Regions from separate parts of the Homo sapiens genome. Here region 1 is linked to region 2. The links come from fine-mapping of genetic effects on gene expression. A gene starts in region 2. The other region holds a variant in brackets. All regions are shown on one strand. Distances are from middle to middle. Region 1 has its middle 6.7 kb from the start of PLTP. Region 2 holds the start of ZNF335 (zinc finger protein 335).

Region 1 (4,384 bases), 53 kb after region 2:
GGAAGAGAGGAAGAAGGCCAGAGGGCGGTGACATCCTCATGATTCCTGGCTAGGGGTTGGCAATCTTGTTAGACCAAAGCCTGGGTTATGCGGGGGACTCCTGCAGTATTAGGACACCTGGAAAAATTCGAGTTGCATTATGTTGACCACTTCTTGCAACATTTCAGCAAGCCCTGCAGAAAAGGGACAAGCTTAGGCTGAAGATGGTGGCCTATCCTTATTATCAAAGGAAAAAATCCCTTCCTTTGGGGCCCCCTCCCTTCACTTACTTTGAAATGTTGTGACTGGCTTATGAAATCCAAACATCTAGACAGAGCTGCTATGGATCCTCCACCTCTTCCTCAAAACAAGTAGAGGCTGGAAAGCCCACGTGGAGTATAAGGAAAGCACAGACGGTTAGGAGGCTTAGAGGACCACAGAAAGAGGTCCCCATGAGTCAGAGTCAGCTAGCAGACTGACAGAGGCATAGAAACTGGGAAGAAGGGTGGGATATGAAGAAGAAAAGAAAAGGGAAGTCAGAGAGAGAGTGAGCTGCCCAAGGCTGACATCCGAGCCCTGATGGAGAGGCACCAGGTGTGGGGATACAATGCCCTAGGACCGAGGACCCAGGGAAAGCAACACCTCATAAGGAACCTTAGAATCCTTGAGTTTCTAATCTGGAGGTGACTTCAGACACCAAGTGGCCTGTTCTTCACACAGAAAATGGACTGGCCTTCAAGGAGGAAATGGGAAAGAAAGAAGAAAACAACAGATCTCCCAGCTTTAGAAATCACGGAAAGTCAGTCCACAGCTTTGGCCTGGCTGAACTCAGCAAGCCCCAGCCCTTTTAGATTCCTTTTACCCATTTGGTAAATGTCCAGCCCTCACGCGGACTGTTTTGTCCAGTTGCATTCTGGAAACAGATGATCATTTCGCCTGTCTGGAGAGATGTAATCGGGGTCTTCCTGGCCTGAGATTTGTCCTCCTCAGATAATCCTCCTCTCATTCCAGCTGGGTCCCCTGTCACATGTCCCCAGGTGCACCCATGCTGACCAACACAGGCGCATGAGCTGCAGTGCTCATATGCTCAGGCAGAGTGAGGAGAAGGGGGTCACTCCCTGAGGGGTAGCTGGGGTGGGCGTTGGGGGTGGGGACTGGGCAGGAGAGGAGATGGGCTGACGCAGCTTCTCCAAGCCATGCAGAGATCCAAAGAAAACACAGCTGGAGGCACAGCGAGGGAGGAGGGGGCCAGAGCAGTGCATGTTGACATGTTGGGCAGCAATCCAGCTTGGCCTCCTGTGGTCAGTGGAGCCCGTGTTTACTTCCTTGGACCAGTTATTTCCTCGTACTGAACCTCAGTTTCCAAATCTGCAAAACAGGGCCAATAATAGCTATCTCAAGGCACTGCTGTGAGAGTTACATGGGATAATGAAAAAGAGAGAGACAGAGAGAGAAACCTAGTTACAAGCATAGGCTCTGGGGCCAGACTGACTTGAGCTTATAACTGCTGGGCCTCAGTTTCCTTATCTGTAAACTGGGGGTGAGGATACCTATCTTGTAGGATGTTATGAAGTGTAAGTGAGTTAATATGTGGAAGCACTTTCTGGCCAAGTGTGGTGGTTCACGCGTGTAATCCCAACACTTAGGGAGGCCGAGGCAGGCAGATCGCTTGAGGCCAGGAGTTTGAGATCAGCTTGGTCTACACAGTGAGATTCTATCTCTACAAAAAAATTTTAAAAGTTAGCTGAGCATGGTGGTACATGCCTATAGTTCCAGCTACTCGGGAGGCTGAGATGGGAGGATTACCTGAGCCCAGGGAGGATGAGGCTGCAGTGAGCCATGATCGTGCCACTGCCTTCCAGCCTGGGTAACAGAGTGAGACCCTGTCTCAAAAAAGCACTTTCTGTTTGTTAAGCAACTATGACAACTATTAATACTAATAATCAGGCCAGGCACAGTGACTCATGCCTGTAATCCCAGAACTTTGAAAGGCCAAGGCGAGAGGATCGCTCGAGCCCAGGAATTCTAGACCAGCCTGGGCAACAAAGTGAGAGCGCCCCACCCCGCCACCAAGTACTAGGTTCCACACTTTGTATACTTTATCACTTTAAATCCTCACTGCCACCCAGGGAGGTAGGTAAGTACTAGATCATCCCATTTTACAGATGTGGAAACTGAGGTTCAAAAAGTGTTTTTTTTTTTTAGAGACAGGATCTTGCTGTGTCACCCAGACTGGAGTTCAGTGGCACAATCATAGCTCACTACAGCCTCGAGCTCCTGGGCTTAAGCAATCCTCCTGCCTCAGCCTCCCAAAGTACTGAGATTATAGGCATGAGCCACCATGCCTAGCCCAGAAAGAGATTTTTCATTTCCTCTGGAACAGGGGTTGGTAAACTATGGCCTGTGTGCTAACTCCAGCTCCCAGCCTGTTCGTTAGATATTGTTTATGGCTGCTTTCATGCTAAAGTGTAGGGCTGAGCAGCTGCGATAGAGACCACAGGGTGTGGAAAGCCTAAAATATGTACACTTTGGCCTTTTCAGGAACAGCTTGCTGAC[A/G]TTTGTTCTAGAAAAAGGCAGAAGCAGGACTTTGCTATCCTGATTCCTTTACAGGAACAGCTTGCTGACATCTGTTCTAGAAAAAGGCAGAAGCAGGACTTTGCTATCTTGATTTCTTACCAGTATTGCTGTGCTGGGTACACAACTGAGGCTGGAAAGGCACTTCCTTCCTGTCCCTCTGAGTGCTGGGAAGCCTCTCCTTCTCTCTTCAAAGCCAGGGATGAGGCCGGGCGCAGTGGCTCATGCCTGTAATCCCAGCACTTTCAGAGGCCGAGGTGGGAGGATTCCTTGAGGCCAGGAGATGGAGACCAGCCTGAGTAACACAGTGAGACCTCATCTCTACAAAAAAAAAAAATTACAAACATTAATCAGCCGTGGTGGTGCATGCCTATAGTCCCAGCTACTCAGGAGGCTGAGGTGGGAGGATTGCTTGAGCCCAGGAGGTCAAGACTGCAGTGAGCCAAGATTGTGCCTCCGCACTCCAGCTTAATAGGCAGAGCCAGACTCTGCCTCAAAAGACAAACAACAACAAAACCAGGAGTGAAAGTGGGAAGGGATTTGGGGATTTGGCTCTCTCCATGTCTCAAGCCCGGTGATGAGCACTCGAGGAGGCTGCCAGAGCCCATCCCACGCTGCACATCTGCTGACATCACTCTTAACGTTTGAGGGTTGTGTGCACCATATGTTTTAGAGGAAAAGGGAAATCAATGTATTAAAGAGGGACAGGCTGAGTGGGGAAGGCCCTGGATTCAGGGCCAGTGACTGCACCTTCTCCTCCACCAGCCCAGGTCAAGGCTGTATTTATTTATTTATTTAGAGACAGAGTTTCACTCTTGTTGCCCAGGCTGGAGTGCAATGGTGCGATCTCAGCTCACTGCAACCTCCACCTCCTGGGTTCAAGCGATTCTCCTGCCTCAGCCTCCCAAGTAGCTGGGATTATAGGCACCTGCTTCCACACCCGGCTAATTTTGTAATTTTAGTAGAGATGGGGTTTCACTGTTTTGGTCAAGCTGGTCTGGAACTCCTGAACTCAGGTGATCCACCTGCCTCAGCCTCCCAAAGTGCTGGGATTACAGGCATGAACCACTGTACCCGGCCGGTCAGAGCTGTGTTTAGGGTCAATTGAACTGAGGCTAACATGGTACAGGAGGAGATAAAGGATCTGGGTTGGCATAGGGATCGCCTGCTGCCCAGGGACATTCAAGGACTCCAAACCAGTTCAATCACTCAGTAAATATTTAGTCAGTACCTACTGTGTGCCAGGCATGGTTCTAGGCACTAAGGACACAGTGTTGAACAAAATTCCAGCTCTCACGGGGACAGACAACAAACAAGAAAGAAAATATTCAATAGTAATAAAATCTATAAAGAAAATAAACCAGGCTGATATGATTGAGAGCGATTAATAGATAGGCAGGCAGGGAAGGCCTCTCTGAAAAAACGCCATTTAAACTGAGACAAAATGCTGGGCGTGGTGGCTCGAGCCTGTAATCCCAGCACTTTGGGAGGCTGAGGCGGACAGATCACTTGAGGTCAGGAGTTCGAGACCAGCCTGGCCAACATGTGAAACCCCATCACTACTAAAAATACAAAATTAGCTGGGCGTGGTGGTGCACGCCTGTAATCCCAGCTACTCAGAAGACTGAAGTAGGAGAATTGCTTGTACTCTGGAGGTAGAGTTTACAGTGAGCCGAGATCATACCACTGCACTCCAGCCTGGGTGACAGAGCGAAGCTCCGTCTCAAAAAATAAATAAATAAAATAAGCTGAGACAAAATGACAAGGAAGATCAGGTGGAAAAGCATTCCAGGTAGAGGGAACAGCAAATGCAAAGGCTCTGAGCAAGAAG
Region 2 (4,340 bases):
CTTTTTATTTTTATTTATTTATTTATTTTTTGAAGCGGAGTTTCTCTCTTGTCGCAATGGCACAATCTCGGCAACCTCCGCCTCTGGGCTTCAAGCGATTCTCCTGCCTCAGCCTCTCGAGTAGCTGGGACTACAGGCGCGCGCCACCACACCCAGTGAAATTTTGTATTTTTAGTAGAGACAGTTTCACCATGTTGGCCAGGCTGGTCTCGAACTCCTGACCTCAAGTGATCCACCGGCCTCAGCCTCCCAAAGTGCTGGTTATTACAGGTGTGACCCACCGAGCCCGGACCTTTTCTCCTTATTAATAGGTCTTCTCCTTAGGACTTTTTGTTTGTTTGTTTGAGACAAGAGTTTCCGCTGTTGTTCCCCAGGCTGGAAGGCAATGGCGTGATCTCGGCTCACCGCAACCTCTGCCTCCCGGGTTCAAGCTATTGTCCTGGCTCAGCCTCCTGAATAGCTGGGATTACGGCATGCGCCACCACGCCCAGCTGCTTTTGTATTTTTCGTACAGATGGGGTTTCTCCATGTTGATCAGGCTGGTCTCAAACTCCCAACCTCAGGTGATCCGCCCGACTCAGCTTCCCAAAGTGCTGAGATTACAGGCGTGAGCCACCGCGCCCAGCCTGCTTAGGAGTTTTTTTGAGATTTTTTTCCCCCAAAATTTGTATCTTTCAATTAAGGAAAATAGCCTATGGAACTACAGAGACTTAGGGACAAAAACCAGAGCGCCTTACTCCCTCTTGTGCTCTTCCACTGCAAACTGCTAAAAGTCTTAAAACAGAAGGTGACATTTCCGGAGGAAGGACATACCTTAAGGGCAGCTGACTTTTAATTAAAATTTTTTTTCTTTCTCCACTTTTAAAGGATAGGTAGTTGACTTGTATTTATTTATTTTTTGAAAGAGGGTCTCGCTCTGTCGCCCAGGCTGAAGTGCAGTGGTGTGATCACGGTTCGCTGCAGCCTCAACCTCCCAGACTCAAGCGATCCTCCCACCTCAGCCTCCCGAGCAACTGGGATTATAGGCACGCGCCACCATGCCTGGCTAATTTTTCTTTTTTTTCTTTTTTTTGTAGAGATGGGGTCTCGCTCTTTTGCCCAGGCTGGTTTGGAACTCCTGGGATCAAGCGATTCTCCTGCCTTGGCGTCCCAAAGTGTTGGAATTACAGGCGTGACTCACAGCGCCCGGCCTCAGCTCTATTAATGTTAACAAATATGTATACAAACCTAAGGGACAAGCATTAACTTCTTTCCATTTCCCCGACTCCTGCCATCCGTACTTAGCTCCTGAGTCCCTTTATTGGATGTGATTTTGGACCAGCCCTTCCCATACCCAGACCTCAGTTTCCCTATCTGTACAATAATTATACATTCCCTTCCCAACAAAACACATCAAACCTAACGGGCAGAGCTCGATTGGGTTGCAGCAGCGCGCTAAGTAATAAGTAATGAGTCAGGTAAAATGACTGACAACATGAATTCCTCTTTGGCCAAGCCAAAGTCGCCCGCGGCCACACGCTCTTCCGGGCTGTTGTAGGAGGGGCGCGGCCAAGCCACCGGGAGCCACGCCCCCCACTGGGAGCCACGCCCCAAGAGAGCGGGGCGCGCATTCGCCGCGCCCAACCCTGCGGCCTAGGGAAGGGACCAGAATGACGTCACAACCACTTCCTACGTAACACTCCGCCGAGATAAAGTAGTCCCCAAACCATAGTGGGCTCAGTGCCAAACACCGGGCGACGTATAAAGTCCCAGAGTCTGTTGAGACCCGATTATGGTTTTGAGGCCTCGGAGCGACCTTCCGGAACACTGAAAATGTGTCTTTCCCGGGGCCAGCGGGGGAAGTAGTTCCGGCCTACAATAGGCCGATGGGTTCCTCCGCAGCGGAGGAAAGAGGATGGCGACCTCGTCGATGCCGGAGTCAGAGAGGAACGTGGCTACGAAAGCCTCGGGTGAGCTTCGGGTAGAGTTAGGCGGCCCCACCGTACCCTGCCGTGGAGTGAGGTCACACTGCGGGGATACCCGGAGGCGAGGTCCCAGGCCGGCGGGGCTGTCCGAACAGGGCCCCGGGGTCCCAGGCCCTTTAGTCGCTCTCGCACTTGCCTGAGCGGAAACCCGGCGCCACCACAAGATGGCGTCGGGCCTGGAGCACAGGCAGCGCCGGGGACAGCCCCAAATCGCCAGGCCCCGAGACCGTCGCTGTCAGCCGCCTCCGCAGGGGAACCGGGGGGGAGCGAACCACTGACCCAGGGGGCCAGCGGGCTGTACCACCGGCCCTGCAACCCGGGGGGACGCGGGGGCCGAAGGGCTGAACCACTGGGCCCGGATGGGGCTCACAGAGCGGAACGCTCCACGAGAATCGTGGGGGCGAGGGAAAGGGTCAAGATTACCAGCCATTGACCACCCTCCCGGGAAGGGCCTTAGCCTGGGAAGCACAGCTTCTCCGTCAAGTTTTTCCCGAGCTCCCCTCGCAATACACCAGGAAGCTCCGCCCCGTCGGAGACTCAATCTTCGCATCTGCAAAATGGGCGCAGGGGTGCAAATGGGTGGCCGTGGTTGCCGGGGCTGGGGAGATGGCCCACTTGTTCCAGCCACGGTCACCTCTCTTCTCAGAGTGAAGTTCCCAGACCCTACGCCCCGCTGTCAGGCAGCCCGCCGATCAGATGGAGGAGAACGAGGTGGAGAGCAGCAGCGACGCGGCCCCTGGGCCTGGCCGGCCCGAGGAGCCCTCTGAGAGCGGCCTGGGTGTGGGCACCTCAGAAGCCGTGTCCGCCGACAGCAGCGACGCCGCGGCCGCCCCGGGGCAGGCAGAGGCCGATGACTCTGGCGTGGGGCAAAGCTCGGACCGCGGCAGCCGTTCTCAGGTATGGACCCGGCTGGACGGCGTGGGTGGAGGCAAGGACCGCGAGCAGCAGTGCCTGACAGCCAAGAGGAAACAAGGCTTGTTTGTAGCTAATACTTGGTGTTTCTGGTTTACTGTGAGCCAGGCACCAAGCCAAACCCCTAAAATGGATTTTCTCATTTGAGCTTCATACCTTCTAAGACACATACCATTTTTTCCCACATCTTATAGAAAAGGATGCCGAGGTACAGAGTGCAGACAGAGCCAGGATTCAAATCTAGGCTGTGGTCTTAGCTACTATACTACCCACAGTCCTCACACTTTGAGAGGCAGATGTCTAGGCCAGGAGTGGTAGCTCATCGCCTGTAATCCCAGCACTTTGGAAGGCTGAGGTGGGAGGATCACTTGAGCCCAGGAGTTGGAGACCAGCTTGGGCAAATAGCGAGACCTCATCTCTACAAAAAAAAAAAAAAAAACGCAAGTGCCCTGGGTTAAGACTGGGTCCTGCCTCCAGTTTACTGGGAGACCTCTTTGAGCCTCAGTATCCCGGCTAAAGTAAAGCAGAAATACTTGCTTTCAAGGGTGCTTGATTGTGAGCTCCCACCAGACATCCTCTTGCAAACATTTTGTAAACCATCTCCTCCTGGCTGTGCCACTTCCTAGCCGTGTGATCTTGAGCAAGCTACCCAACATCTAGCTCTGTTTCCTCGTCTGTAAAGTGGGAATGGTAAATATACCTGCCTCATAGAGTTTTTGTGAGGATGAAATGAATTAACATATGCAAAGCTAATAATTAAAACAGTGCTCAGCACATTGTAAGCACTCAGTAAGTATTAGCCATTCTTATATGCAAGATAATGGTCATATTCAGTATATCACGTGATAGAAGTACACAGCAGTGGTCATCACTTTGGGGTCCTGGGGTTTCATTAGTTCAGCAGAGATGGGGGCCTACCATGTGCTCAGCGTGTGCTGGGCCCTGGAAATACAGCAGAGGAAAAGACAAGTTTGGTCCAGGCCCTTGTGGAGGGCACAGTCTGGCATGGAGGCTGTTAAAAGGCACAATGAACCCCACAGTGGTGTGGTGCTGGGGACACAGGCAGCTGCAGCACTGAGGATGAAGAAGTCCTGACTTGGCCTCAAAGCCAGCATTGACTTCCTAGAAGAGGTACCAGCTAAATGGTGGTGAGAAGGCTGGGTAAGATTTAGCCATAGGGTGATGCTGGGAAGAGTTTCAGGCAGAGGGAACGATTTATGCAAAAGCCCAAAGAAAATAGCTCCCCCTGGCTGTGGCTTAGGAGTCCCTTCTCTTATTTTTGTGTATTCCCTGATGAGATCCAGGGACCCTGTGACTTTTTCCTGGGGGACTCTGTGACTGGAGGGCCTCTCTCACTGGTCCTCCGTGGGGCTGAGGGCATGAGTGGCTCCACTGACCATGTCCTTGGGCCTGAGAGCTCTGTCTAGCAAGTGGGAGCTGGCAGGCTGCCCTGCCCCATACCCA

The links.
Region 1: its variant is fine-mapped to the expression of ZNF335 in whole blood (TOPMed, PIP above 0.99).

Annotation. Positions count from the first base shown.
Region 1 is chr20:45,916,689-45,921,072 of GRCh38, reverse strand. No RefSeq gene overlaps it. Among named protein-coding and RNA genes, the nearest start is that of PLTP, 6.7 kb to the right of the region's middle. The variant A/G (reference allele first, on the strand shown) is at 2,536.
Region 2 is chr20:45,969,731-45,974,070 of GRCh38, reverse strand. It overlaps ZNF335 (zinc finger protein 335), which reads left to right and starts at 1,868. Exons shown (of 28, transcript NM_022095.4): 1 at 1,868-1,949; 2 at 2,611-2,861. The coding sequence starts at 2,661. RefSeq lists an enhancer at 1,247-1,466 and a silencer at 2,237-2,356.